Homo sapiens: one gene and its partners. The protein of the gene in region 3 interacts with the protein of the main gene of each other region in a pairwise test. Each region holds a gene or a part of one and is shown on either strand. Other genes may lie near its edges. The genes, in order: SLC4A1AP, POMZP3, ADORA2A, CHN1 and SLC25A39.

The links.
Region 1: the proteins of ADORA2A (region 3) and SLC4A1AP interact in a two-hybrid assay, tested with the Homo sapiens proteins (one large-scale study listed by BioGRID and IntAct).
Region 2: the proteins of ADORA2A (region 3) and POMZP3 interact in a two-hybrid assay, tested with the Homo sapiens proteins (one large-scale study listed by BioGRID and IntAct).
Region 4: the proteins of ADORA2A (region 3) and CHN1 interact in a two-hybrid assay, tested with the Homo sapiens proteins (one large-scale study listed by BioGRID and IntAct).
Region 5: the proteins of ADORA2A (region 3) and SLC25A39 interact in a two-hybrid assay, tested with the Homo sapiens proteins (one large-scale study listed by BioGRID and IntAct).

The regions. Positions count from the first base shown.
Region 1 is NC_000002.12:27,669,236-27,675,094, reverse strand, and holds part of SLC4A1AP (kanadaptin), read right to left. Parts: intron 5,848-5,859; coding exon 5,708-5,847; intron 1-5,707.
Region 2 is NC_000007.14:76,622,943-76,629,546, forward strand, and holds the start of POMZP3 (POM121 and ZP3 fusion protein), read right to left. Parts: upstream 4,338-6,604; 5' UTR 3,766-4,337; exon of another isoform or gene 3,274-3,765; 5' UTR 3,123-3,273; coding exon 3,058-3,122; exon of another isoform or gene 2,979-3,057; intron 2,742-2,978; coding exon 2,580-2,741; intron 1-2,579.
Region 3 is NC_000022.11:24,439,048-24,444,036, reverse strand, and holds the end of ADORA2A (adenosine receptor A2a), read right to left. Parts: intron 4,744-4,989; exon of another isoform or gene 4,470-4,743; intron 3,455-4,469; coding exon 2,548-3,454; 3' UTR 1,680-2,547; downstream 1-1,679. UniProt on the Homo sapiens protein: Receptor for adenosine. The activity of this receptor is mediated by G proteins which activate adenylyl cyclase.
Region 4 is NC_000002.12:174,879,022-174,884,880, reverse strand, and holds part of CHN1 (N-chimaerin), read left to right. Parts: intron 1-5,859. UniProt on the Homo sapiens protein: GTPase-activating protein for p21-rac and a phorbol ester receptor. Involved in the assembly of neuronal locomotor circuits as a direct effector of EPHA4 in axon guidance.
Region 5 is NC_000017.11:44,321,652-44,328,109, forward strand, and holds the start of SLC25A39 (mitochondrial glutathione transporter SLC25A39), read right to left. Parts: upstream 3,173-6,458; 5' UTR 3,060-3,172; exon of another isoform or gene 1,927-3,059; 5' UTR 1,912-1,926; coding exon 1,827-1,911; intron 1,693-1,826; coding exon 1,633-1,692; intron 1,202-1,632; coding exon 1,157-1,201; intron 902-1,156; coding exon 768-901; intron 117-767; coding exon 49-116; intron 1-48. UniProt on the Homo sapiens protein: Mitochondrial transporter required for glutathione import into mitochondria. Glutathione, which plays key roles in oxidative metabolism, is produced exclusively in the cytosol and is imported in many organelles.

The DNA of each region.
Region 1 (5,859 bases), on a different chromosome or scaffold from region 3:
CTGTTATGTATATTTTCCCACAATTTCTTATTAAATAATTTTTCATTAAAGCAAATAGTTAATTTATTTAATGAGCAAACGGCTTTTAAAAATCAATGAGGATGGCCAGGCATGGTAATCCCAGCACTTTGGGAGGCTGAAGGGGGATGGATCGCCTGAGGTCAAGACCAGCCTCACCAACATGGTGAAACCCCGTCTCTACTAAAAATACAAAAATTAGATGGGCATAGTGGCGGGTGCCTGTAATCCCAGCTACTCAGGAGGCTAAGGCAGGAGAATTGCTTGAACCTGGGAGATAGAGGTTGCAGTGAGCCGAGAAAGCGCCACTGCACTCCAGCCTGGGTGACAAGAGTGAAACTCTATCTCAAAAAAAAAAAAAAATCAATGAGGAAAAAAGGAAAATGAAAAATGAGAAAAAGGACAATAACCCAAAAGAAAATTTGAAAAAGGATAATGAAAGCAGTTCACAGAAAAATACAATAAATATTTTTAAATATGTTACTTTAAAAAAAAATAAAGTACAAATTTAAAAATTAGATACTTCTCATCTATTAGACTAGAAAAACATAAAAAGATTAATAATTGGTGGGAATGTACATTGATACAACCTTTTTGATGGTCAAGCCTACAATATCTGCCATTAAAAATGCATTGATCCAGCAATTCCACTTCTAGGAATTTATTCTATAAATATCAATGCAATAGTATTTATAACAGTGAATATGTAAAGAGTCCATCAATAAGAAACTATGACAGCTATTACTTTTTTGTTCACCCTACAACATTCTACTCCCTTTGTTCTGATAAAAGTACCTCTTTCCCCTAGAAAATTCCTCCCCCATTTTATCTGGTTTAGGGATAGTCATAGGACCAAAGCCAAATCAGTAAGACTCTTTCCCTCATATTTATATTTAGAGATGGGGCAAAGAGGCTCTCTTTACAATGAGGTTATTAAAGTGAGAGACTGTTAAGTTCAGGGCTGTAAGCAATCAGCTTTTCAGCACAGGGTAAGAATCTGTCTGCAAAGTTTAAAAATGCACTCGTGAGACAGACTCACTCACAGACACACACACACACACACACACACACACACACACACACACAACTTGTATATGTCCTGGTGATGCTGAGTCTACTTTGGTAGTACTAAGTTATGGTTTCAGAACTTGAGGTTCTGGTTCATGCAGTTGTTCCTTCACTCCTGTTCCTTCATCCTGAGCTATTCTTCCCAGCTTCTGCAGCCAATGACCTTTCCCCTAAGCTAGTTTGAATTGGACTTCTATTATTTGCAAGGAAAATAGTCCTTATTAATATAAGCCTAATTTGCAGGTTAAGATGGTACATTAAACACACATATCTAATTTCCCTCTTTCCCTAAATCCCAATAAACCATAGTAAAGAGATGTACCCACGCCTGGGCAACATAGCAAGACCTTGCCTTTACTAAAAATAAATCTAAAAAAAGTAGCTGGGCATGGTGGTGTGCACCTGTAGTCCCAGCTACTTAGGAGGCTGAGGCGGGAGGATCGCTTGAGCCCCGGAAGTTGATGCTGCAGTGAGCTGTGATCAGACCACTGCACTCCAATCTGGGCAGCATAGAGGAAAGAGAAGGAAGGAAGGGAGGAAGGAAAGAAGGAAGGAAGGAAGGAAGGGAGGGAGGGAGGGAGGGAGGGAGGGAGGGAGGGAGGGAGGGAAAGTAAGGGAAAGGAAAGGAAAAAAGAGAAGGGAGGGAAAGGAGGAAAAGAAAAAGAAAGAAAGAAAGAAAAGAAAGAGAGAGAGAGAGAGAGAGAGAAAGAAATTCATAAAGACCCAAATTTTAGAAAATTAGAAAGTAGACAGATGAGTAGAAACTAACTTAGCAGAATTTAAAAAGATAAATCCTAAACAGTGGGGAAAGCTGAGAGCCAAAGTGATTACACTGCAGAATCCTCAAACGGATCTGCAACTGGGGATGGATACTAAGGTTATGGAGGACTAAGTAAAAACTGGTTGAGAAATAGATCTTCCTCCCTGCCTACTCATCTCCTTTCCATCTGCAGTAGAAATCCAGAGGTTAATCTCTGGAAAGGGTAAAACAGAAAGCCTTTGGATTACGAGTTGACTAGTAAAGTTGAAGGCATGGGCACTATAATCTAAAAATAGTACTGTCCTGAAAACAGCTGAATGAGAAGCCACTCAGCCACCTTCTACCACTTAGCTCTAGGAATGCTGGCAGCCAGTCCTTTCGTTTCAGGCAGGAGATTGGAAGAGCACTCTCTGGGGAATCTCGCTCACAGACGAGGAAAACCAAAAGGATACTTAAATCAAGGGTTCCCCAACAAAAGGCCCACCCACATCATTCAATAGTACTGCTCAAAGTCAACAAACCCCACCTATATATTCCATGCAGAAACCCCACCTATATATTCCAAACTGTCAATCACCTTTTTCATCCCCAAATAAAAAAACTACAATGAAGAATTACATGACACCTAAGAAAAGCCTTTAACATGCAGAACAGAGACCACATAAAAAGAAAAATAACATGGAGAAAACAGAGAGGAGATATTTACAACCCATGAAACAAGAGGATATTATGTTTTAAAAAGGACAATTCAAAAACCAAAAATGAACTTTTAGAAATTAAAACCTTGGAGTCTCTGAGCCTTCTCTGGCATGAAAGACTGCCTGATTTTAAAAACTTTAAAAAAAGAGAAAGAAATTAAAACCTTGATGGCAAAATAGAGAAGACAGAAAGATAAAGGTGCAGAAATCTCTCAAGAAGGAAAAGACATACAGATGAAAAAAAGAAGAAAAAAAACTTAAATGGTCTGTCCAAGAGGTCCAATGTCTGAATAATAAAATTCCATAGAAAACAGAGGGACGAAACAATTAATGACATAATTGCAGAAAACTTCCTGAACAGCCAAGGTTTCTAGATCAAAAGGATCCAACAAGTACCCAGAAAAATGAAGAAAAATAGACCCACAGAAAAGTACTTCATAGTTTTAGAACCTTTAGAACAAAGGGAAACTCTTACAAGCTCTGGCAAGGCGGAAAAAAAAGATGACATACAATAGGATCAAAATCTGAACAGTTTAGGATTTCTCAAAAGCAACACTGAATGTAAAATAAGAAAAATTGTTTCCAACTTAGAATTGTATTCCCAGCCAAACTATTAATCAGGAGTGAAGCTACAATAATTATATTTTCAGAAGAGAAGGATTAATAAAATTTATTTCCTATACACTCTTTCTCTGAAATCTACTAGAGGATGTCCACCAAAACAAGAGAGTAGACCAAGAAAAGGAAAGATGTGAAATTCATTGAAGACTATCATCACCCATGCCCTCTAGTGTTGTACCAGCTTTTTAATCTGCTAAAAGTACAGAAGGATGTACTACTGTGCAAGGAAATAAACCAAGAAATATGAGAATATGAGAATCAAGAAACAGAAAAGTCAACCCTGGAGAAAGGACAAAGAAATCTTAAGGATGATAGGAAAGTTAAGTCCCAGGTGACAGTTCTGTAGCAGATCTGCAGAGCAATAAGCCCTGAAAGAAAAATAGTGCTCTTCAGAAAAAGTGTCTCCAAAACAAATCAGAACTGATAAATTACTTAATCATTAAGTTGTTTGATGTGGTGAGGCTACTGAAAGGTGTGGGAGGAATGAGCAAGAAATACAAAAAAGCCCCAAACACATGAAAAGCAAACGCAATTATTACCCTTAGGAAAAACAAAAAGAAATAAAACTGCTCAGTTATAACTAATATTTGCATAAGCATAATCACGTAAATACTAAATACTAATTTAGCAGAGTCGACAGGTAACGTCTAAAATAAGTGACTAAAAATATAACACCATACTCTTGTTCTTAGAAATACAGGTGTTTTTAGGCTGGGCGCAGTGGCTCACGCCTGTAATCCCAGCACTTTGGGAGGCCAAGGCAGGCGGATCATGAGGTCAGGAGTTCGACACCAGCCTGGCCAATATGGTAAAACCCTGTCTCTACTAAAAATACAAAAATTAGCTGGGTGTGGAGCACGCACCTATAGTCCCAGCTACTCAGGAGGCTGAGGCAGAAGAATCACTTGAACCCGAGAAGCAGAGGTTGCAGTGAGCCAAGATCATGCCACTGCACTCCAGTCTGGGTGACAGAGTGAGACTCCATCTCAAAAAAAAAAAAAAAAAAAGAAAAGAAAAGAAATACAGGTGTTTGTTGTTTTTTTTTAAATTTAATTAATTATTTATTTTTGAGACGGAGTCTTGCTCTGTCACCCAGGCTGCAGTGCAGTGGCGCGATCTCGGCTCAATGAAAACTCTGCCTCCTGGGTTCACGCCATTCTCCTGCCTCAGCCTCCCAAGTGGCCGGGACTACAGGCACCTGCCACCACACCCAACTGATTTTTTTTTTTGTATTTTTGGTAGAGACGGGGTTTCACCGTGTTAGCCAGGATGGTCTCGATCTCCTGACCTCGTGATCCGCCTGCCTTGGCCTCCCAAAGTGCTGGGATTACAGGCGTGAGCAACCGCGCCCGGCCAAGAAATACAGGTGTTTTTAAATGCCAGAATAAATAACTGAAAAAACTGAAAGCCTTTAGGGAAGAAGACTGAGGATGGGTAGGGCAAGGAACAAGTATATTTTATTATAAGCCTTTTGGTAGTTTTGAACCAGACATAAGTTACTTTGCAATAATAAAAATATAATATAAGCCTTATTAATAAATGATGCTCTACTCAGACTTTAAAAAAAAAAAAGCAAAATACACAATTAATGTATTGATACATATTAATGTATTGATGTAATATTCGTGATACGGCCAGGCGCAGTGGCTCATGCCTGTAATCCCAGCACTTTGGGAGGCCAAGGCGGGTGGATCACCTGAGGTCAGGAGTTCGAGACCAGCCTGGTCAACACGGTGAAACCTCGTCTCTATCAAAAATACAAAAATTGGCCAGGTGCGGTGGCTCATGCCTGTAATCCCAGCACTTTGGGAGGCCGAGGCAGGTGGATCACCTGAGGTTGGGAGTTCGAGACCAGCCTAACCAACATGGAGAAACCCCGTCTCTACTAAAAATACAAAATGAGCCAGGCATGGTGGTGCATGCCTGTAATCCCAGCTACTTGGGAGGCTGAGGCAGGAGAATCGCTTGAACCCGGGAGGCAGAGGTTGCAGTGAGGTGAGATTGCGCCATTGCACTCTAGCCTGGGCAACAAGAGTGAAACTCCATCTCAAAATAAATAAATAAATACAAAAATTAGTTGTGCAGGGTGGTGCAACCTATAGACCCAGCTACTAGGGAAGCTGAGGCAGGAGGATGGCTTGAACCTGGGAGACGGAAGTTGCAGTGAGCCGAGATCATGCTGCTGCACTCCAGCCTGGGTGACAGAGTGAGACTCCATCTCAAAAATAATAATAATAACAACATCCATGATACATTCTTATGTTAAAAAAGTAAGTCACAAAAGATTGTAATTAATATGACTACATTTGTGTATGAGTGTTTTTTGTTAAAGGATCTAGGTCTCAGCACACATCTATATATGCATAGAAAATGTCTGGGAGAATATAAACAGTGGCTACCTTAGGGTATTGAGAATTTTTCTCTTTTCACTTCAAAAAATTTTGTACAATTTACATTTTCCCCCCATAAAGAAGTTTTATTAGCGTTTGTGTTGAGTTTTCCTTTTTTTAAATCTAGAAAAAAAGGGCTCCTATATACTGACCTGCTTCCTGCCGAAGCAATCCCAAAGTGTCAAGAATCCGACAAGCTTCCAATGAGCACTGGATCATTGCTTCTTTTTTCTTTCCTGAGTGAATGGCCTCAGCCACCAGTTGTTTTCCAGTTGAATCGTCCACAGGTAATCTTCATTGATTT
Region 2 (6,604 bases), on a different chromosome or scaffold from region 3:
CTCACTGCAGCCTCCAACTCCTGGGCTCAAGTGATCCTCCCACCTCAGCCTCTGGAGCTGGGAATACAGGCACTCACCACCATGCCTGGCTAATTTTCATATTTTGTTTGGTAGAGATGGAGTTGCACTATGTTGGCCAGGCTGGTCTCTAACTCTTGGGCTCAAGAGATCCCTCCACCTCAGCCTCCCAAAGTGCTGAAATTACAGGTGTGAGCCACCGCACCCAGCCCAAATTGATTGTGGTTTTTTTTTTTTATTTCACTTTTCCCCCTGTGATACAGCCCCAGGAGATCCCCAAATAAATTCTTAAAACAGTCTTATGACTCTTTAATGTCAGAAATCCTATCTATAGGAACAATGGTATGCAATGGTCAGGAACTAGTGCCACCTGACTTTTAGCAACAAGGAAGTAGGCCAAAATGCAGCCTGATGAATGCTTAATTATAACTCTATTTCTGTCCAGAACCCAGCATGCAGTTCTTGTTGCTCCTGTGGGGATAGTTTCATTCTCATTGTAAATGAATATTCTGGTGTGTTGCTTTGGGATATATAAGTTGTTCAAGAAAAGGGATCAAGCCTGGTGCGGTGGCTTATGCCTGTAATCCCAACACTTTGGGAGGCTGAGGTGGGTGGATCACCTGAGGTCAGGAGTTTCAGACCAGCCTGGCCAACAGGGCAAAACCCCCATCTCTACTAAAAATACAAAAATTAGCTGGCTGTGATGGTACGCAACTGTAATCCCAGCTACTCAGCAGGCTGAGGCAGGAGAATCTCTCAAAACCTGGGAGGCGGAGGTTGCAGTGAGCCAAGATCGTGCCATTTACACTCCGGCATGGCTGACAGAGCGAGAATCCGCCTCCAAAAAAAAAGAAAGAGAGAGAGAGAGAAAGAAAAGCAAAGCACGCTTGGTGACCGTGCTAGGTTTTTTGAGATAAGTTTTTTGTTAAATAAGAGCAATTTTGTTTAAGTTGGGGGTTATTTAAAGATTGTTTCAAAATATGGATTTAGGAAGGAAATAGAAACAAGGTGGGAAGAAGGCCAGTAAGTAGGAGAGACGTGAAAAAAAGTTATGAGGATGTATTTTTGGTAAAGAAAGTTGAAAAAAGAGTAATTTTTTATTTTGCATGAGAGAGGACTTTGGTCAAAATCAAGAGGAAAGGAAAGTAAATTTCTGTCCTAAAGTAGATTGCTAATATAAAAAAAGTATAGGACAAAATCAAAGATTTAAGGAAGTGTAGAAGTTGTGGAAGATTAATCTCATGAAAGGAATTTGGTGTGTGATTAAGCTGGCCGAAATTAGAAGGGGATTATTTATAAGATTTTCGGCCAGGCGTGGTGGCTCATGCCTGTAATCCCAGCACTTTGGGAGGCTGAGGCGAGCTGATCACCTGAGGTCAGGAGTTCGAGACCAGCCTGCTCAACATGGCGAAACCCACTTCAACTTCTTTTCTTTCTGTAATTAGAAAACTATTCCATTTTCATTAGGTTATTTTACAAACCACATAAGGAATTTTTTTTTTTTTCAGACAGTCTCGCTCTGTCACCCAGGCTAGCATGCACTGGCATGGTCTCGGCTCGCTGCAACCTCCGCCTCCTGGGTTCAAGCAATTCTCCTGTCTCAGCCTCTGGAGTAGCTGGGACTACAGGCACCTACCACCACATCCAGCTAATTTTTGTATTTTTAGTAGAGACGGGGTTTCACCATGTTGGCCAGGCTGGTCTCGAACTCCTGACCTCAGGTGATCCACCTGCCTGGGCCTCTCAAGGTGCTGGGATTATAGGCGTGAGCCACCTTGCCCTTCCAGGAAATTGGTTTTAATCTCATTACTGATAAAACTACCAAACTCTAGTTTTCATTTTTCTTTCCCAAGCATTTCCTTCAGCACAATTAAGACACTAGAACTGGTGGGCCGGGCGCCGTGGCTCAAGCCTGTAATCCCAGCACTTTGGGAGGCCAAGGCGGGCAGATCACGAGGTCAGGAGTTCGAGACCATCCTGGCCAACATGGTGAAACCCTGTCTCTACTAAAAATACAAAAAAATTAGCCGGGCATGGTGGCGGGCGCCTGTAGTCCCAGCTACTCGGGAGGCTGAGGCAGGAGAATGGCATGAACCTGGGAGGCTGAGCTTGCAGTGAGCTGAGATCGGGCCACTGCACTCCAGCCTGGGGGACAGAGACAGACTCCAACTCAAAAAAAAAAAAAAAAAAAAGACACTAGAACTGGTGGTTACCCAAATAACTGAACACCACAAAATTCCGACCAGAAGACTTAGAGCCTTCTTTCTTGAAAATAAACTTTTAACACGTTTCTACAGAAGCATGAGGCTAACATGGCTAATAGCTGTCAGCTTATCTCTGCTACTCACAGAAAAGGTAAATTATGACATCGATCTAACCTGTGCCTTGAAATGATCAGCATTAAAACCCCTGTTATTAGGTTCTTTCATGAAAGCCAAAGAAGGAGGCCTATGAAGGCTCACAAACTGGAGGTGGCCTCTGTATCTTTACGGGAATGTCTACATCTCATCCCATAGGAGTCCAAGCGGGAAACTGGCTTAGTACTCTCCTGAGCCTGTTACCTTCTTTTATTTTCCTGGCCATCAAGGAATATTTGGTCTTCTTCCTCCACTGTCCTTTTCTTCTTCTTCTCTTTGAGGGCACTCAGTACAGTCTCCTTTGCACATGGGTCTGGGGCATTACTTGATGGTGAGGACAGTGTTGAGCTGATTATCTGCTCTGGTCTATAATGAAAGACAGGATTCTAGCAGTAAGATATTTTAATTCCCATGCCATATCAGAAATGGAAATCAGAAGCTAACCAACAAGCCAAAGTATAATTTATACACTCACAACAGTTCCCCTTAGCAAGTAAAGCTACTTTTTCGTTAACGGCAAAAAGTGAAAAACAAACGGTTTTACTAGAATTTGGTATTTCTCATTCAAACAAGCAGATTCGTCCTTTCTTTTTTGCGTTGTAGTCATGTTGTCATAGGAACAACTGGAGAAGAATAAAGTGGACACGAAAAGGGAGAGTATTCTTCCAACGATAATACTCACATCGCAGAACGCGAAAATCTTCTGTCAGGAGGGGCGATCCTCAGAGTCACTGGGCTACACACCATCCTGGAGTTGCGAGGGGACAGCACAGCCTTCTTGTGATAACCATTCCAGCACACTGTGGGAAGTACCCCCGGACAGGAATACTGGGCCTGATGGATCGGATAGCGTCTTCGAGGTGTTATTACAAACCGATCTGGTAAAGTCCCACGATCCCTGCAGAGAATGCGAGACAAATCATGGAAACAAAGTATAAAAGAATGTCAAAATTTTAGACGGTTAAAAACCCACCAGTTAAGACATTTTCCAAAGAACTTAAGTCTCTTTCTACGCAACACAGAACACGTTGTTTTTATGGCAACTTTCCCCTATTCCATCTAAGAGCAGAGAGTGACAGCTGCTTAACAGCTGTCTCAACAATGGATTGCAACAATTTGAGAGGGAAAATCTAAATCTAGACTAAATCTAGACTGCACTAAAATTCGGGGAGTTTTTAGAACTGGAAAGAAGGGAATCGTTTTGGCAACACATCTCACACCAAGCAAGAGTCAGAGGCCAGGAGACGGCTGGCACACACCAAGGTGTTAAGGAGGGCAAAACCACACACAATTCCCTTCGGATTTGATGAAAAAGCAAATCGGATTTAAAAGTCCTCGATTTCAAGCCAGCCGAGCCAAAGGATGATCTGGGAAAATCAGCGCATCTCACCGTGGGGAAGGCCTCCCGGAGGGTCGGAGAAGAGGAGTGGGGAGAGAGGGGTAAAAGTGGTGAACGCGATGGGTCGGCGGGGAGGGCGGTGTGGAGCGCGGCGCCGGGCGGGCGGGCGGCGGCCAGGCCTATTCCGCAGGTCCTGGCCCTCCGGAGCGGGGGCGGGCTGCGGCGGCCCGGGCTTGCCCAGGTAACTGCCCATGAGGAGCAGTTCGGCAGGGTCAGGTCCTTCGAGCAGGGTCCGCGGCTCTAGGAGGTTTCCGTTGGCTGTCGACTTGGCCGGAGGCGAAGCGAACAGTGTTCGCCGATGTCGCGCCTTCTGAACGAAGGAGGACAAGGGGCGCGAACCTCGGGGCTCGCGGCTCAGTCCCCACCAGGCCGCGGTAGTCCCCACGGCCAGCCAGGCCAGCGCAGCCGCAGCAGGCACGAGGTACAGTAGGAGGCCGACCAGCGACAGGCCGAGAAGCGCCGCCCCGGCCGGCCCTGACACTCGCTATCGGCCGCCGCCGCTCGCCTGCTCCAGCCGCCGCAGCCGCCGGAGACATCGCGGCTCCGCGCCGCGGAGGAGACTTAAATATCCCAGCGTGCACCGCGCCACGCGTCGCGTCATCGCGCGCCCGCCACGTCATGCGCGCGCGACTCGGGGAGACGCTACAGCCCGGCAGCTCCCGAGACACAGCTGTTTTGGAAAATGCTGCCTGCCTTCAACGCCTGTTTCTGACTCTTGCGGTTTCCCGCATGGCTCCCAGCGAGACGATCCCGTCCGGGATCCCATCCGGCTCCCATCCGGAGGCGATCCCGTGAAAGGATCGCGTCCAAAATAAAAGGGCCCGAGACCTATGCTTATGTAATTCCTAATCCGTGATCTTTTCTAGGGGCTGAACTCCCCTCCAGCACAGCCTGTTACCAGGTGCTTTTCACAAACGCCACTGGCGGCTGAGTTTTCCCCCCCACTTCCATTTCTACTTTACAAGTTGATAACGTGGGACGATTACCTACCAAATTTCACATCATGGCCCAGACATCGGGTGGATTTTGAGGCTCTGTGATCGATTTATACCTATGCTAAAGTTATCGGTCTGAGAAAGTAGATTAGTGGTTGCCTAGGGCTAAGGAGTGGGTTTGGGGGTGGGGAATAGAAAATGACTGCTTATGGGTATAGGCTTTCTCGTAGCAGCATAAACATAGTTTAAAATTAGATCGTGTTGGCGGTTGCACCACCCTATGAACTGTATGGTTTGTGAATTATATCTTCATAAAGCTGTTTAAAAAGTCTGGTAGTCTGCCAATACACTTTGGTGTAGTTAAGTTTCCTCAGACATTCATTCATTGATTTATTCATTCCATTGTTTATATACATTAAAGAGATTAAGGGGGAAAATAGAGGATCTCTGATCTTTATAAGCTCTGTTTAGTAAGGAAGATGTGTAAGTAAAAGATTGCAATTCAATGTTATCAGTGTGATAACGGGAACAAAAAAAGAGGCCAGACGCAGTGGCTCATGCCTGTATTCCCAGCACTTCGAAGGCGGAGGCGGGCGGATCACCTGAGGTCAGGAGTTCAAGACCGGCCTGACCAATATGGTGAAACCCCGTCTCTACTAAAAATACAAAAATTAGCTGGGCATGGTGGCGCGTGCCTGTAGTCCCAGCTACTCGGGAGGCTGAGACAGGAGAATTGCTTGAGTCCGGGAGGTGGAGGTTGCAGTGAGCCGAGATCATGCCACTGCACACTCCAGCCTGGACGACAGAGCGAGTCCATCTCAAAAAAAAAAAAAAAAAAAAAAAAGTTGTGATAAAGGGGAAGGAAGGCAGGGAAGTGCTCCTGGAGCTGAGAGGTCTGGCAGGTTCAAGGAAGATGAAGGAGCACTGTGCAGAAGTCCAGAGATGGAATTGTTCAGTATCGCTGGAGATTAGGGTGTTTTGGGGATAGAAAAGTTGGAAAGGTATAGATGCCTCTGGGGCAACTCAGAGAGATGAGAAGAAGGTGCAGTTTGGGTTCCAGATCCTCCCCAACCCAGTGCCAAAGTAATTCTTCTATTTAATATACTGTGATTTCACATAAGACTTAATTTGAAAAAAAAGGGGGGGGGGCGGAGGGGGGACTGTGTTGCTTAAGAAAAAAATCTCAGTATCAGTAGACTAGTGGGACAAAAGCCAGGCTGCCCTGGGTTGAACAGTGACTGGAAGGTGAAGAAATGGAGGCAGTGACTGCAGACTCCCTACTCAAGAAACCTGGGTAATAGGGGAAGAAGAAACATAGTGTCTAGGTCAGTAGGGGCTCTTTGAACTATTGTGTGTGGCTGGAGTTAAGTGGAGGAGCTACACATAAAAGCCGTCAGGGTACAGATGTCCTGAAACCAAGCAAGATGACTGAGAATTAATGTAAATAGAGAGGTCCATAGCCTGAGCCCTCGGGGCACTCCTGTGTTTAGAGGTAAAGAGATGAATACACAAAGGGCACAAGTCATGTAGGAAATATAGATAAATATGACTACATTAAAAGTTAGTACTTCTGGGCCGGGAGTGATGGCTTACACATAATCTAGCACATTTGGAGGCGAGGCTGGTGGATTGCTTTGAGCTCAGGAGTTCGAGACCAGCCTAGGCAACATGGTAAAACCCAGTCTCTACTAAAAAAAAACACAAAAATTTGCCTGGTGTGGTGGCATGTGCCTGTAGTACTACTCAGGAGGCTGAGGCTGGAGAATCGCTTGAACCCAGAAGGCAGAGGTTGCACTGAGCTGAGATCGCACCACTGCACTCCAGCCTGGGCAACAGAGTGAGATCACACACACACAAAAAGTTAACACTTCTGTATGGGAAAAGACAAGATACAC
Region 3 (4,989 bases):
GCAGCTTCTGTGCTCTTGGTCTTCTCAGGCATACCCCAGCCACTGTTCCACCCTCAGCCCACAGCCAGTGCAGATCCTAGGAGGGAGGAAGCTGGTGTGGACAGGGGGTGGACTCAGTGCATTTGTATCAGTGGCTCCTTATAGGTTGTCCTGGCTGTCCATAAGAACCCCCTGGGGAATTACTTGATCTACCCTAGCCAATTAATCCAGTGTCTCTGGGGCAAGGGACTGAGGCTTTGGTGCTGATTGAAGCTTCCTAGGTATTTCTCCTGTGCAGCCAGTCTAGAGGACCTCTGAGGATATAACAGTGAGATAGCTAAAACAATCCTTTGTTGGTTTTGGGATAGTTTTGCAGGCATCCATATACTAAAAGTGTAAAGAAGTGCAATGGAAAGGGCTGGGCGCGGTGGCTCACGCCTGTAATCCCAGCACTTTGGGAGGCCGAGACAGGCGGATCATGAAGTCAGGAGTTTGAGACCAGCCTGGCTAACATGGTGGAACCCCATCTCTACTAAAAACACAGAAAAAATTAGCCAGGCATGGTGGCAAGTGCCTGTAGTCCCAGCTACTCGGGAGGATGAGGCAGGAGATTCACTTGAACCTGGGAGGCGGAGGTTGCAGTGAGCCAAGATCGTGCCACTGCTCTGCACTCCAGCCTGGGCAACAGAGCGAGAAAAGAAAACCGTCTCAAAGAAAAAAAAAAAAAGAAGAAGAAGAAGTGCAATGGAAAGAAATGAAATTCAGGAAAGTGGTTGTTTCCAGGCCTAGGATGCAGGGTAATGATGGGCAGGGGTCAGATGCAACATTGTAATGTTTCAGTTCTTAAGCAGAGTGCTGAGGAAATGATGTTATTTTGTACTTTTTGGTTCGGTTCAAATAGTTCATCATTAAGTTAATGGAAACAATGAACATGGATTTTACAGTCAGACAGACCTGAGTTTTAAGTTCACTTCTGCCACTTACTAGCTGTGTGACCTGGAGCAATCATGTAACCTCTCTGGGCTTGTTAATCATCTGTAAAACAGGGCTCACAGGGCTGTGTGAGGATTACCCTTGACATTCTTACACTCCTTCCGGGAGTCCCAGAGTGAGTGAGACCAAACCGGGACAATCACAGCTCTCCACCAACCTCAGGCAGGGGCAGGTTGCTAACTGCCTTCCAGGCCTCAAACTTCGCCATCACAGAAAGATGGCACCACCTCCTCAGGCAGGAGGCCCCTAAGGCCGGGGTCAGAGCAAAAACACCCCTTCCTTCTGGGTTTCTTTTGTTAAGAACAGAAGGAGGGGGATTCTAGGGGAAGGCCGTGTAGCCCCTGCCCAGATCTGTTTGCGGATACCTCTGTGACCTCTGCTAAAGGGTGCAGCAGGGCAGGTGGCGGGTCACAGTTCTGAGAAGGTAACATACAAAGAGATCTTCCCTTAAAGATGTAGGAAGATAAGGAGGGGGGGAGTTGCTGGGGAAAGCCCCTTCTCCCATAGCCCCTGTGGGCCCTCATAGAAATGCAGGTTGGATTGTGGTGCAGCCAGGCAGCCTGTCCCCTCGAGGACAGGACCCTGGGGAGGGCCCCCGGGGCAGGCAGGGTGTCTGCACATACGCACACACTCTCTCATACACAACACATGCCTGTATGTGTGCACAGGCCTAGCTATGGAGTAGGAAACGAACTCAGACGCCATTCTCATTTGGACAAGCTTAAAACACGATGTGGCTCGTTTTTATTTTATCTCAGAAAAAAACATTCCCTTTAGAAGGAAAGGCAGTTAGACAAGGCCTCTCACTGGGTAGCTCTGCGCTACTCAGCACATGCCAGTGGCCTGCCAGCCCCAACCTCTCCCCTGGGACCTGGGCCCATGCTCTGGCACTGCTCTGTTACAACTCCCTGTCCTTGATCCCAGCTTTGTCACTCCAAGAGATGGCCCTGGGACTGAGAAGTGGATGGCAGCTGTGACAGCAGGAGAGGACTGCCTGAGGCTCCCCGGGCAGAGGCTCTGGTGCCAGGTTAGCAGCAGGACCGACGGCAGACCCAGCAGCCAGAGAGTGAAAGGTAATAAAATAAAAAGGGTTTCCTCACACTTACATTTTTCCTGGAAAAAAGTCAAATGTCACCTCTGGGCCCAGCAGCTCCTGAACCCTAGGAGAGTCTAGGGAGAGTGGTGTGTGGGTGGCAGGAGGCTGTTGGAGCCACTCCCCAGTCTCAGGGCCAGGCCAGTCTGCTGTGCCCAAGCTGCTCTGTGGAGACAAGGTGGTGCTTCCAGATGCTTCTGCAGTGGAGGGCTGGGCCCTGCCCAGCAAAGATGCTGCTGGTGCTGTGGCCCCCACCTGGTGCAAGGCCTCACAGCATGAAACATCTGCTTCCTCAGAACCCAAGCCCTTCTTGCTGGGCCTCATGCTGCTCCAGCCTGGGGCTCCCTTCTCTCAGTCCAAAGTAGGAACCGGCTGCCCTCAGGGTCTCCTGGCACTCTCTCTCTTCTCCCAACGTGACTGGTCAAGCCAACCAGAAAGATAAAGATCTCCTTCCCTTAGGAAGGGGCAAACTCCATGAATCATCAGGACACTCCTGCTCCATCCTGGGCCAGGGGGTCATCTAGGCCAGGGGGCTCTGGGCACACTCCCTTGAGCTCATGGCTAAGGAGCTCCACGTCTGGGAGGCCCGTGTTCCCCTGGGACTCTTGGGCACTCCCTCCACTCACCAGCCCCAGGGCATAGCCATTGGGCCTCCGCTCAGGGTGGGGAGCACTGCCGTTGGCCCACACTCCTGGCGGGTGGCCGTTGAGACGGAGGCTGACCTGCTCTCCGTCACTGCCATGAGCTGCCAAGACCCGGGCACTGGTGCCAGCTGCCTTGAAAGGTTCTTGCTGCCTCAGGACGTGGCTGCGAATGATCTTGCGGAAGGTCTGGCGGAACTCGCGGATACGGTAGGCGTAGATGAAGGGATTCACAACCGAATTGGTGTGGGAGAGGACGATGGCCAGGTACATGAGCCAGAGAGGGGCGTGGCTGCAGTCGGGGCAGAAGAAAGTGAAGCAGTTGATGATGTGTAGGGGCAGCCAGCAGAGGGCAAAGAGCCCCACAATGATGGCCAGTGACTTGGCAGCATGGACCTCCTTCTGCAGTGTGGACCGTGCCCGCTCCCCCGGCAGAGGCTGGCTCTCCATCTGCTTCAGCTGTCGTCGCGCCGCCAGGAAGATCCGCAAATAGACACCCAGCATGAGCAGCAGGGGCACCAGCACACAGGCAAAGAAGTTGAAGTACACCATGTAGTTCATGGGGACCACATCCTCAAAGAGACAGGCCACTTGGCCCTCCCCGCAGCCCTGGGAGTGGTTCTTGCCCTCCTTTGGCTGACCGCAGTTGTTCCAACCTAGCATGGGAGTCAGGCCGATGGCAAACGACAGCACCCAGCAGATGGCAATGATGCCCTTAGCCCTCGTGCCGGTCACCAAGCCATTGTACCTGGGGAGAAGAGACCAGCATCAGAGATCTGAGAAGCCAGGGTTAAGCAGGGCCAAGAGTTCAGAACCCCAGAGCAGCACCCGTTTCCACATTTCCTGACTGTAAGGTCTTGGACCAGTCATTTCCTGCCACCTCGCCCCAGCATCCTCTTCCGTTAAGTGGAAGTAATATGCCTTGCCTTTTTCACAGGCTTCTGGGAGGTAACAGGAGAGCAGGCATCCAAGAAATGGAAACCCATGTACAAATGCCCAGATGGTCATTGAGTAGTTTTCGGAGTAGTCCTGGGACTTAGTTTGGTTGGAGGAAATTAACGCATGATTTTTTGAGGGGGAAAACATGATTTTTCTCTAAAGGGAAACGTGTCGTAGCCTTAACCAAGATCAATTACCTCCATGTTGGTCGCAGCCTTAACCAAGATCAGTCACCTCCATGTTGGTTGATCTTGGTTAAGGCTACAACAGGCTTGAAGGGGTCTGGAGGGTGGCTTTACTGGCTAGGGGCAGCACCAGCCAGATCAGACCTATAGAGGATCTAGGCCTCTTGTACTCCATACCCTGTCTTCTCTTCCCCATTTGCCATTTGACTTGGGGACTCCAGAAGCCCTTGAGGAGAGGCAGCATGGAGGGTAAAAGAGGGGAGGAGGTCCCAGGCCAAAGGAGATGCCATTTCTCCCCTCCAAACCCACCCACAGCCCTCTGGAGAGAAATGAGAGAATTACTTGTTAACATTTACATGGCCATCTTAACATTTGCAAGGAAATACTGAGGTCCAGGGGGACAGTAATCTGCCCGAAATCACTCAGTCTTCCTGAGTGAGAGCCAGACAGAAATCCAAGCCTACCGACTCCCAGTCTCATACTCGGGAAATGGCTGGATCTGCCAGCCAGTAAGCAGACCTCAGCCCTGTAGGAAAGGTGGCCTAGATTTCATGAAAGAATGGACAATAAAAAAAAAAAGTCTCCCTAATTTAGGAAGGCAACCTTGATGATCACTGAGGGATGACTTCTGTTTAACAGTTTTGATTCTGGCAAGACCAGACTACACTCCCCTCTACCTGGCAGAAACCCTACCCATCCTTCAAGTCCAGGATAGAGATCTCAAAGAAGTTTCCTACCGAAGTGCAGCAGATCCCCACCACATCTGGGCCCCTCGGGGGCAGGGCTTTCCTACATCCATCTCTGCATTGCCAGCTCCGAGACAGGGACACTCAGAAGGTGCAAGGAGGCCGGGCGCAGTGGCTCACACCTGTAATCCCAGCACTTTGGGAGGCCGAGGCAGGCGGATCACGAGGTCAGGAGATGGAGAAACCTTGTCTCTACTAAAAATAAAAAAAACTAGCCGGCCGTGGTGGCGGGGGCCTGTAATCCCAGCTACTTGGGAGACAGGCAGGAGAATGGTGTGAACCCAGGAGGCAGAGCTTGCAGTGAGCCAAGATCGCGCCACTGCACTCCAGCCTGGGAGACAGAGCAAGACTCAGTCTCCAAAAAAAAAAAAAAAAAAAAAAAAAAAAAGGTGCAAGGGGAAGGATGTGCTCTA
Region 4 (5,859 bases), on a different chromosome or scaffold from region 3:
ACTATGCCAGTCTCTGGTGCTTTAAAGTAAGTAAAACTAATAACCGATTCTTAAGGACTCATAGGCAATAGTGAACCATTAACAATTTTCAAGAGGGAAAAATCATGTGATAGGATCCCTCAAATGCATAATATTAATTATCACAGTATGTGTCCCGTAATTTTTTCTGTTTTACTGGATACTTAATGTGGGTTTGGCCATTTATGGATGTTGCTGCCAGATGTATATATATGCTGGTACATATAATCACACACATTGTCTAGGATATTACCTAGGAGTAGGATTTATATGTTGTAGGGTATGTATATATTCAACTTTAGTAAATAATACAAAACCCCTTTGTTAAACAATATTGCAGGTACTGGTTATATTAACTGCTCTGTATCCTTGCTGGTACTTAGTATTGTTAGGCTTGTTAAATTTTGCCAGTCTGAGGATTTATTTGCAATTACTGGACTATTTTGTGAGCACCAGTTCTTGGTGTAGGTCTGTTTTCATCCATTGTGTAAATGTGTGTTCTTCCATTATAATAAAATTTTTTGAGTTATCGCTTTGATTCCTTTCCCTTCCATTTTGTCTCTTCTCTCTTTCTATAAATGTTAGACTTTCAGGCCGGGCTCGGTGGCTCACGCCTGTAATCCCAGCACTTTGGGAGACCGAGGTGGGTGGATCACGAGGTCAGGAGATCGAGACCATCCTGGTTAACATGGTGAAACCCCGTCTCTACTAAAAAAATACAAAAAAATTAGGCAGGCATGGTGGCGGGTGCCTGTAGCTCCCAGCTACTCGGGAGGCTGAGGCAGGAGAATGGCGTGAACCTGGGAGGCGGAGCTTGCAGTGAGCTGAGATTGCACCACTGCACCCCAGCCTGGGCGACAGAGCGAGACTACGTCTAAAAAAAAAAAAAAAAAAAAAGAAGTTAGACTTTCTGGATTGATTCTCTATCTTAATTATTTTCTCTCCTTTTTTTTATCTTTTTGTCTTTTTGTTCTTTAAAATTTTCTCAACTTTTTTAAAAAAACTTTCATTTATGCTATATTCCTTTTTCTACTTATTTTTCTATATATTCTATATTCCTTTTTTTTACAGGATTCTAATGTTTTTTGGTTAAATTCTATTCAAGAATAGGAACAGGAAACATCTTATTTTGGGTTTTTTGAGCATATTTTCATTCCCATGCATGATTTTGTTTCCTCTAACTTGCTTTGATTCTGTTTGTTTATCATAGTCTTTGTCTTTCATGAGGGGAGTTTTCCTCAGATGTCAGGTGGCCCTTGGCTGACTGCTCATATTGAAGCATATGGGACCCTAAAAGGCTGGCTAGTAGTTCTGAGAGCTTGGAGGAAGCCTGACAATTATAGGATGATGGTCTCTACTCTTAAGTCTTTTTTTGTTGAGTTGATCAGATTTCCAAGAGTAGAATCTTTCAGTCTCCTATCAGGAAAGGTACAAGCCTTCCGATAGCCTCATGGTGAAGAGAAATGGAGGTATCAGTTTCTTTAGTATTTAAATTTTGGGTATTTAAAACTTTCACTTAGTTTTCAAGATGATACCTCTGCTTGTATTCCCTCAGTTCACTATCTCCCTGTTTTATCCTGCCTAGAAAACAGAACTTAAGTCTTCTGCCATGGTGGTGAAGGGATAACAATAGGGACAGGATTAGGGAGGGCAGGAGGAATATCTAACTGCTTTTTAAACGGACTTCGAGTTAATCCTTCTATATCAGTTCTACCTTCCAGAGCTATGTGAGTTCCACTGTTCAGAAGATGGCTTCTTTGGAAGTTTAGTTAGGCAAATTGGATTTCTTCTTCACTGAAAATGATTTATTTGGCCAAGGAAATATCATTATGTGTTGACATAATTTAATACTTTTCTCCATAATCCAAAATTGTATAGCAAGATAGACAAAAGTCATAGCCTGACAAAGTTTTGGATGGGATATCATTTTAATGTTGTATATAACTATGCTCTCTCTTCCATAGCCTTCCTTAGTTCATAGAATTCATCTAAATTTATTTTGTAGTACTTAATCGAATGCATCATCATATTTTATTTCTGTTTTAAATTTTCTTCCAAGAGTATCTTATGATTGAATGAATGTATATTTATATTTCACCATTAGATTAGCTTTTTTGACTCTGGTAAACAACAGACAAATATATATTTATGATAAATAAAACTGTTTTTGTATGTTGGTTGCTGGAAATACTTCTAACATTTTATTGTAAGCTTAGACGAGTGTGTTGTATATGTTTTGTTTTCTGTTTGTTAACACAAAACATCTGTTAGCTTGGAGCTTTCCTTTGAAGAGATCCTTTCAAATCACTTTGGCCTCAAATTAGAATTAATTCTTGGTTTTGCATAAAGTAAAGTAAAATTCCGAAAGCTATTCTGTATATATTTTGTCATCATTTTTTCTTCTAGACTGAATTTTTTGTCGATATGATTTATTTGCTGAAAAATAGAAAAGATGGTATATTAAGGATTTTGTTTATTTTTAAAAAGATGTTAGAATTGTATATCTTGAAATGCATCTGAATGCATCTGGGCACAGCATTAAACAGCTTTTTAAAATAGGAAACCCGAAACCTGGAATCACTGGAGAAAGATATTCTTTCTAGAAAGTGGCATTATGTACAACAGTAGCAGTTAAAAGCCTTTCTTTTCTATTTGTTTACTATAGTAACACTCTGGAGAAAATGAATTTTCATCTTGCTGAACTCTACCTAGGTGAGAGTTGGGCCTATGCAGCTTCAAGTATGTTCACCAAGGAATAAACAGCTATTAAGCAAGGGCAGAGTCAGATAATAAAAGGAAAAGATGAAAAGAAAATTATCTTATAAAAGTCAAAGGGAAATGATTTAGCCTCAACAGTTTTTACAAATCAATGCTCTGTAGTCTAGGGTTCAGTAGCTGTCACTAGGTCCACTTAATATGTCCCGCTTTCAATATATGTAAATCTCTCAGCTTTCTCCTTTGAATTCAGAGGCCTCATTCCCAGGACACAGTGGAAAGACCTTCTTTGCTTGCTCCTCCTACCCGATTTGCACTCTGTTGTCTTCCCACTCTATTTAACCAAGTGGCAAATACAAACTTATTCAGAGACATCCAGGAGAAAATTTCACAAAGAGCTCCTCCTTGCCTTTTGTTAACTGTAAAGTAAATCAGTGCAGAGATGTTCCTGTACAGCCAGTGTTGCCAGTTATTTATTTAGCCATCTTCCATGCATATCTATTGAATATTTTTGCTGTTTTACTTTAGTGTTGGTAACTCATTCTGTCATTCTCTGCAGGGGCCTAAGCTAACAGAGAAGGAGAAAGGGAACTACCACTCGAGCCTACTATATATATTTAGCTTTGACTTAAATATCTTCATGTAATCCTCACAGCCATCTGGGGTAGGGTGATGTTATTCCTATTTTTTAGATGCAGAATCTGACGAATGATTTCCCCAAAGTCACCCAGCTAGGAAGTGGCAGATCCAGGATTTAAACTTACAACTGTCTGATGCCAAAGCCTAAGGTTTTCTCTTAAACATATAGGACCCACATTTGCCTTCCCTTGGCCAAACCATATTTCAAGACTACAGGAGAAGACTGCAAGGATGCTTTTGTACTTGGACATAAGCAGTAGCTCTGAGATCTTATGTAAGCCTAATTGTTGTGCTCTGTTTTACTAGGCAGTGAGTTTCTTGGTTTTATGGTATGAGGGAGATACTGGATTCACTTGGTTTTGTGAATCACTTTACAGAATCTTTCTACATAAGAGCAAGATTCTATATGTATATAGTTATTAAAATAGATCAATCTGAAGACGGACTTTTTTTTTTTTTTTTGAGATGGAGTTTCACTCTTGTTGCCCAGGCTGGAGTGCAATGGTGCAATCTTGGCTCACCACAACCTCCACCTCCCAGATTCAAGCAATTCTCCTGCCTCAGCCTCCGGAGTAGCTAGGATTACAGGCATGCGCTACCACGCCCAGCTAATTTTGTATTTTTAGTAGAGACAGGTTTCTCCATGTTGGTTAGGCTGGTCTCAAACTCCCGACCTCAGGTGATCCGCCCGCCTCAGCCTCCCAAAGTGCTGTTATTACAGGCGTGAGCCACCGCACCCGGCAAGATAGACTTTTTTAAATTTAGCACTTTGTGTATTTGTATTGACCTGTTTTATCTTTTTACCACTGGGGTTACCAAGCGATAGGAACTCTATTGTGAACCACCTAATACTTGACAGTAAAGTACCTGGATGTTTTGTTAACTATTTGTTGAATAAATGACAGTCTGCAAGCAGTGAACTTCAAGGAAAGAGTCTTTCTTTGACCTTAGATTTGGAATCTCCCCCTTTATGGCTCTTCTTATGTAGAATGGGCACATCCATTCCCACCTTTCTCAAAGATTTTCTGTCTTCTTTCTCTTCTTCTAATCCCACAAAGCACAATATGCCTTTCAGATAAAGAAAGTGGAGAAATCTTTGACAGTCTGTGCTGTGGTGCTGTTCCTAGGTAACTTCCCAAGTAAAAGAGAGTAGTTCAGAGTAGGCCAGGAAAGCTTGGCAGTTCTCTTAGTAAAATATAATGCAGTTTTTCTTTAAAAAGATCAATCATAATTCCAAAATGGAAATTTTTTATTTTTACCCTTTGAAGCAAAGTTTTAATCAAACCATGTTATAAGTTTTTTGGTTATGTGATCATCTCCCTTTAGACTGAAAGTTTTATTGGATTGGAAGCCTGGAGCTGAAGTACAGGCGGAGCAGGAATTGGAAATTGTGGGCAGGGTCTCCTGAAATCACTGAGTTGAGAAAGAGAAAAGGATAAATAGGGTTTTTTGCACAGCTCCTTACAGGTAGCCAGGCCTCTTCTTGGATGAATTAGGCATCGTCCATTGGAAAGAACTAGGAAGTTAACTCTAGACTTCCTAGTTCCTAGTCAATCAAACCATTCCCAGTGCAGCCATCTTCCCTTCATGCCCTGTGCCCCCCATACTTCTCAGATTTCAAAAGGCAATTGAGTACTAAATGACTGACACCATTGCTTGGATTGTTTTTAAGTTCTGTATCCACTGTAGAAATGCCCACTGTAAAATCGTAAGTCCCAGCAGGAGTAAAATGGTCTGAGCCCTCATTGAAATGTGTCTGATACAACCGAAATATAAAGGGACTCAATGCTATGTGTGTTTATTATTGTAGGAGTCTTATAAAAGCTATGGAGTTGCTTTCCATGTTGCAGATAATGTATATTAGAAAAAAAGGAAATGATGAAAGCAGTATATTAAACTGAAAAACTTTTATATTTAACTTTGGTGTAGAAATTTCACCTGTCTAATTTTTTAGGCTTTATAATGAAAATATACTTGGGAGAAATGTGTCTTTAACATTAGAGGAAAATGGAGAACAAGAAAGTGTAATTATATGGATAGTTCACTTAAGTGTAAATCAAAATTTGATTGTTACTAAAGGATGGATAAATTATGCTTTAGAAGGGCCAACATGGATAGTACGTTGGATTCTAGATTAAATTGTTATTAAAGTCTAATTTGAACTACAGAAACAGACATCGTCTGGCTATTATTTTAAAAAATATTTTATTTCCTTTCCATACTTTATTTCCACATTAAGATGTTCCTAACTCCTATTCATTTGGAATATAACCTATACCAGAACAATTTTGTTATATAACAAGTTTATAGTCCCATTTAACGCTTTACTTAAACAGCGTTTATTTTAGTATTTTAGTTCATCCCTGTTCTGTTGTACTTTTAACAATGAAATTAAATATATCCTTTGTGACTTGTTTAGTTTTTAATTAGTCTCACTCGGGGTTACCTTCAGGAGACCATTACACTGGCAGCTCTTGTTGCCTTGTT
Region 5 (6,458 bases), on a different chromosome or scaffold from region 3:
AGGGTCAGGAAGTACCAGAGGAGAGTGGTGCAGGACCCGGCTACTCACAGGGTGGCGGGGAGGCCGCTCCAGAGGGTCCTGGTGCCCTCGTGCCTCACGATCTTCACGAAGGCATCCTGGCCAAGCAGGCACCAGCCCAGGGGAAGAGGAGGGACACAAGTGATGTCTGTGATGGGGCTGGCCCAGGCTAGGCCTTTGCCTGACGCCCTCAGCCTCTGCCCACAGCCCTCAGGCCTCCCTGCCTCTACACATGCAGTACCCCAGCAGCTGGGTCCAGGCGGACACCTGGTCACCCTTCAAAAACCTTATGGAGGCCAGGCACGGTGGCTCACATATGTAATCCCAGCCAGCACTTTGGGAGGCCAAGGCGGATAAATCACTTGAGGCAGGAGTTCGAGACCAGCCTGGCCAACACGGCAAAACCCTGTCTCTACTAAAAATACAAAAATTAGCGGCAGGTGGTGGTGCACGCTTGTAATCCCAGCTACTTCGGAGGCTGAGACAGGAGAACCACTTGAACCCAGGAGACAGAGGTTGCAGTGAGCTGAGATCACACCACCGCACTCCAGCCTGGGTGACAGAGCGAGACTCTGTCTAAAAGAAAACAAACACCCCATGGAGGTACTGCCTTCTCCGGAAGCACTTCCTGACGGAACCGGCTACCTCTGCGTGCCTTGCCCAATCCCTTTACTCCTGGGTCTGCTGCCCAGCCAGACCGAACTCCTCACGGACACCGACGAATCCCTACGGACCCAGCTGCTCCTCACCATGGTGCCAGTGAAGCGGGTAGGGTCTTGAAACCAGGTGGCACAGCGGGCACCATTTGGGCACAGGTACAGAGGCTCCAGGACACCATTGCAATACAGGAGGCACTTCCCTGTGGATTGGAGAGAGGAGGGCACTGGGGAAAGGCAGGGGGCATTATAATGACAGGATCCTAGAACCTTGCAGGGAGGCAGTGGGCCCCTATCCCTGGAAGGCCAGTAAAGGCCAGGTCCCTGTGTGGATGTTCTGGTGCAGGTCACAGGACTGGCTGGCAGGACCTGGGAGTATATGCTAGTCCATGGCTGTGGAGCCCACTGGTGCCCTGGGGACAGGGACAAGGACTGTCTCCCCCTTGCACCCTCCCATGCTCCCTGTGGCTTGGGGCACTCACATTTGGTATAGGAGAGGCTCCACAGTCTGGAGGAAGGCATCAGCTCTAAAATACAAGGCAGCCCCTCAAGTCAGGAGAGCCCCCACCCGCCCTAGGGACCCCATCTCTGGGAGATCTTTTTATTTTATTTTTTGAGATGGAGTCTTGCTCTGTCGCCCACCCTGGAGCATAGTGGCACAATCTCAGCTCACTGCAACCTCCACCTTCCCGGTTCAAGCGATTCTCCTGCCTCAGCCTCCCAGGTAGCTGGGACTACAGGCGCATGCCACCAAGCCCGGCTAATTTTTGTAGTTTTAGTAGTGAGAGAGTTTCACCACGTTGGCCAGGCTGGCCTTGAACTCCTGATCTCAGGTGATCCACCCACCTCAGCCTCCCAAAGCGCTGGGATTACAGGTATGAGAAACCACGGCCAGCCTCTGGGAGATCTTTCTTTTGCCCAGGCACCACCCCTCACTAGTTCCAGGTCAGGTACTCACCGCTGGCCATGGAGGGCCGCTGAGACTGCAGGCGAACCTTCACCACGTCCAGGGGTGTCACTGGGGGAGGAAGCGGGTCTGAAGGCTCCTTTCAGGACCCCACCCCTAGGACTCCTCCCCCAGGACCACACAGCCTCCAATCTCCGGTCTGCCCCATCCCCACCCGCCCCCACCCCACCTCCCCTAGGTCTTACTGAAGAGAGAGGTAACCACAGCCCCGGTGCCTGAGGCCACCATTTGCTGGAGGGGGCTGATGCCCGCAGGGTCCTGGTCAGCCATCTTGAAGCTTCAGTCCTGAAAACCAAACCTCAAACAGACCACAACTCCAGGGATGGCAGGAAAGGAGGCTGGGCCACTGTGAGACTTTTGTTTTGAGACGGCGTCTCGCTCTGCGCACTGTTGCCAGGCTGGAGTGCAGTGGCACCATCTTGGCTCACTGCAACATCCACCCCCGTTCAAGCGGTTCTCTTGCTTCAGCCTCCCAAGTAGCTGGGACTACAGGCGCGCACCACCACGCCTAGTTAATTTTTGCATTTTTAGTAGAGACAGGGTTTCACCATGTTGGCCAAGATGATCTCGATCTCCTGACCTCGTGATCCGCCCGCCTCAGCCTCCCAAAGCACTGGGATTACAGGCGTGAGCCACCGCACCCGGCCCACTGTGAGACTTTAACCCAACCCTCATCCACCGCCCTCGAAACATCTGTTGCCTCAACAACCCTGGCAATGACCTCTAAAGCAGGGACTGTCCGCCCCCCTCCGCCGGGGAAAACTAAGGCTCGGGGAGACGAGGTGGCCTGCCCAAGGTCACTCAGGAGTGGTTCCGAAGGAAGCTAGGGTGCCAGACCTATCGCTCGAATGCAGTAGGAGCCAGGGTCCTTCCCTCGTCCACCTCGCACGTGTCCACTGCGCACCTCCTACGTGCAGGCGCGGATTTGGCCCTCGTGGCCCCAAAATCAGAGTACCTGTGCTGCCCCCACAGCCCCCACTCCAGCACCAAGGCCCCGGGCAGGCACCTGAGAGCCCAAGTTACTGGGCGTGGAGGGACGGCCGGGCATCGAGGGTGACGTGTAAACAGATCCGGTGACCAAGAAGGGCCCGTCGCCTCCTCAGGACTGCGGGCTGGGATGCCCGGCCCTCCCCGCCCGGCCGGACGGGCCAGACCCGGGGCCCGGAGAGAAAGAGCAGTCTCTGGGTTCCCGCCCCAAAATGCAGGCCCGGGGCGCAGCCGGGAGAGCGGGAAGTAGGAACGTAGGACCAGGACGTCTCCCCGACCCTCGGCGACACTCCCGGCCCCGAACGGCGGAGAGCCGCCAGGTGAGGGGGACCACGCCAGCTCGACGGCCCCAGCACCTGCCCTGGCTCGCACGGCCGCCCGGAGACCCCCGCTTCCGTCTCCGCCCCCAGCCCCGGCCCAGTGCCGCCTACCTGGCTCTAGGCTGGTGCTCGTGCGGCGCGGCGCCCAGGGTCAGGCGGGCCCATACCGGCTCCGCCGCCTGTGCGCGGTCCGCGCGCGCTCGCAGCGCACCTAGGCCGACGCCGAAAGCAGCCAAGGGGGCCCCGCCCCTACACCGCGCCACGAGGCCCCGCCCGCCGCGGGCCGACCAGCCGCAAGCCCGGAGTGTCCCCGGCTCCGCCCACTCGCGTCTCCGCCCGGACCTGCGACGGTCCCGCCCCCTTGACGGGGCCGCGCGGGCGAGTTCCATGCCTGTCCAGCGCTGAGAGCTGCCGGCCAACTTCGCGGTCTCCACGTCGCGCTTAACGTGGCAGCAGCACGCACTTCCAGCATCTTTTTTTAGACAGCATCTTTTTCAGCCTCGCTCTGTCGCCGAGGCTGGAGGGCAGTGGCGCGATCTAGGCTCACTGCAGCCTTGACCTCCCGGGTTCAAGCGATCCTCCTGCCTCAGCCTCCGGAGTAGCTGGGACCACAGGCGCGCGCCGCCACGCCCGGCTGGTTTGTTACTTTTATTTTTGTCTCCCTATTTTGCCCAGGCTAGTCTGGAACTCCTGGGCTCAAGCGATCCGCCCACCTCGGTCTTCGAAAGTGCTGGGATTCCAGGCGTGAGCCGCCGCGCCGGCCTTAACAGCGCATTTTCACCAGCCCCGCCCCGGCCGCGCGCGGCACTGGAAACCCCAGCGCCTTCTGGACGGCGAGGGTGACGCACTGGCCCTCTTCCTCGGTGTCCTCAGGTGCGTGGCGGCGGCAGTGAGAATGAGTTCTTCGAGATCGCCGGGAGACCACACAATAACGACGAAGTTACTTGCCGGGCTACCCGCCGAGACTTGAAAACTTCGCGGCGACTTCTCTCGCCGGCCTTAGCATCGCCCCCATTTTTCAGGTTACAGGACAGGCCTGCAACTGCAAAACGCTTTGTAAACCACAGGGCCCCGCGCGGGTGTGCGCCACTGGGTTAGCTGAGCTGCAGCCCGGGCCGGGCGGGCTGGGACGTGAGCAAGCCGGGGGAGACGGGAGAGCCATGGGGAGCCAGATCCCACCTTCGCGTGACCTTGGGCAAATCACAACCTCGCCTAAGGCCCGGAATGACTCTGCGCGGAGAGGAAGAGCACTGAGTGCGGGAGGGCATCGACGTTTTGGTGTTGGTTGCTCTCGTATCGTGATTTCTTCTGAGTCTCAAAACTCTTTGCAGTAGGTTATTGTTGAAATAGATTACCACAGGCCGGGCGCGGTGGCTCACGCCTGTAATCCAGCACTTTAGGAGGCCGAGGCGGGCGGATCACTTGAAGTCAGGAGTTCGAGACCAGCCTGGCCAACATGGTGAAACCCCGTCTCTACTAAAAATACAAAAGTAGCCGGGCATGATGGCTGGCGCCTGTAATCCCAGCTACTCGGGAGGCTGAGGCAGGAGAATCGCTTGAACCCGGCCGGCGGAGGTTGCAGTGAGCCGAGATCGCACCACTGCATTCCAGCCTGGGCAACAGAGTAACACTCCGTCTCAAAAAAAAAGGCCGGGCGCAGTGGCTTACGCCTGTAATCCCAGCCTTTTTGGAGGCCGAGGCGGGCGGATCACCAGAGGTCAGGAGTTCGAGAGCAGCCTGACCAACATGGTGAAACCTCGTCTCTACTAAAAATACAAAAAATTAGCCGGGCGTGGTGGCGCATGCCAGTAATCCCAGCCACTCGAGAGGCTGAGGCAGGAGAATCGCTTAAACCCGGAAGGCGGAGGTTGCGGTGAGCCGAGACTGCGCCATTGCACTCCAGCCTGGGCAACAAGAGCGAAACTCCGTCTGAAAAAGAAATAGATTACCCCGTTTTACAGAAAGTGAAACTGAGGCTCGACGTGAAGAGCCGGAGATTCGAACCGGCCGGGTGCTTTTCCCAGGGCTCCACACTGCCTCCCCGGGAGACAGGAAGGCTTAAGTCCAGCGCTGCCCTCTCCGATCCCGCTTGTCAGGGAGACACTTTATTTCCCGGGGCAGCCCCGTACCCCAGGCCCCACCACCCACTTCGCGTTTAGAACTTCTGTGCTATCTTGCTTATTTGTCCTAACAGAGAAACCAGCACGCGCGGGCGGTGGCGGAGGGGGGCGGGCGGGCGGGTGGAGGCGGGGGGGGGCGGGCGGGGAGATGGGTACTCCTAGCCTGCGCCTTTAAGAAGGGTAGGCCTCGACTTTGACGTCTCTGCCTTCCCCGCCCTTCAGGCCCCCACTGGTCGCGTCCGGCGCTGGAGGAGCCCAGTCAGCCGGCGCCTGCCGGGTTAGCACGTGGACTCCGAGGGGCCAACTATCAGCTTTCCCTGACAAAATGCCTTTGAGCTCCCCCACAGCTCTGAAACTCCAGCTTGGGAGCAGGGAGAGTGCAATCTGTGACCTGTAAAGGGGCGCTGGGCAAAAGGGCCCGAGAGAAGGCGTCCTTTCCATTCCCTTCCCATCTCAAGCTGAGTTCAGAAATGACACGAAATAATTTAATCAACTATCAGTCAAGGTCGGGCTCACGCCTGTAATCCCAGCAGTTTGGGAGGCCGAGGTGGGCGGATCACCTGAGGACAGGAGTTCGAGACCAGCCTGACCAACATGACGAAGCCCCGTCTCTACTAAAAATACAAAAATTAGCCAGCGGTGGTGGTGCGCACCTGTAGTCTCAGCTACTTGGGAGGCTGAGGCCAGAGAATCGCTTGAGCCCGCGAGGTCGAGGCTGCAGTGAGCCGAGATCACACCACTGCACTCCAACCTGGATGACAGAGGGAGACTCTGTCTCAAAAAATAATAAATAAATAAATAAATAAATAAACTATCGGTCAAGGTGAAAGCCTACTCTCCGCCAAGGTTCTTTACAACTTAGACGTTTTGGTTTACGGAACAGGGGAGGAAACTGAGGGCTCTTGTGTGTAGTGACTTTACTCGTGTGGAGGAGAACCCAGACTTTCCCTGCACACACTCTCCCGTTTTATGGATGAGAAAAGGGGGGCCCCAAAGGTCAAATCGCCCCAAGGTCACTCAAATGAAAGAGTCAGCATTAGACCCCCCAACGTGCCTGAGCCAGATGGGCTCCCACCCTGTCCAGTTCTCAACCCAGGTGCTGTGTTCCAGCAGCACCCTGACCTGGCTTTCCATCTCACCTGCCTCTTACAAGCAAGTGTCTTAAGGCCTCTAAGCCTTAGTTTCCCCATTTACAAAATGGGCTGATGGTGATGATAACGCACCTTCCTCTAGGGATTATGTAAGGATTTAATGCATTAATGGCTGTGACGTGCTTAGAACCCTGGCAAGTGGCAAGCATTCTATGACAACTACTACTATTGCTGTTACTGTATTGTTGTTAATTGCTCTCTAGAACCTGTGGCATGGAAAGTTCCCCAGATTCTGGCCC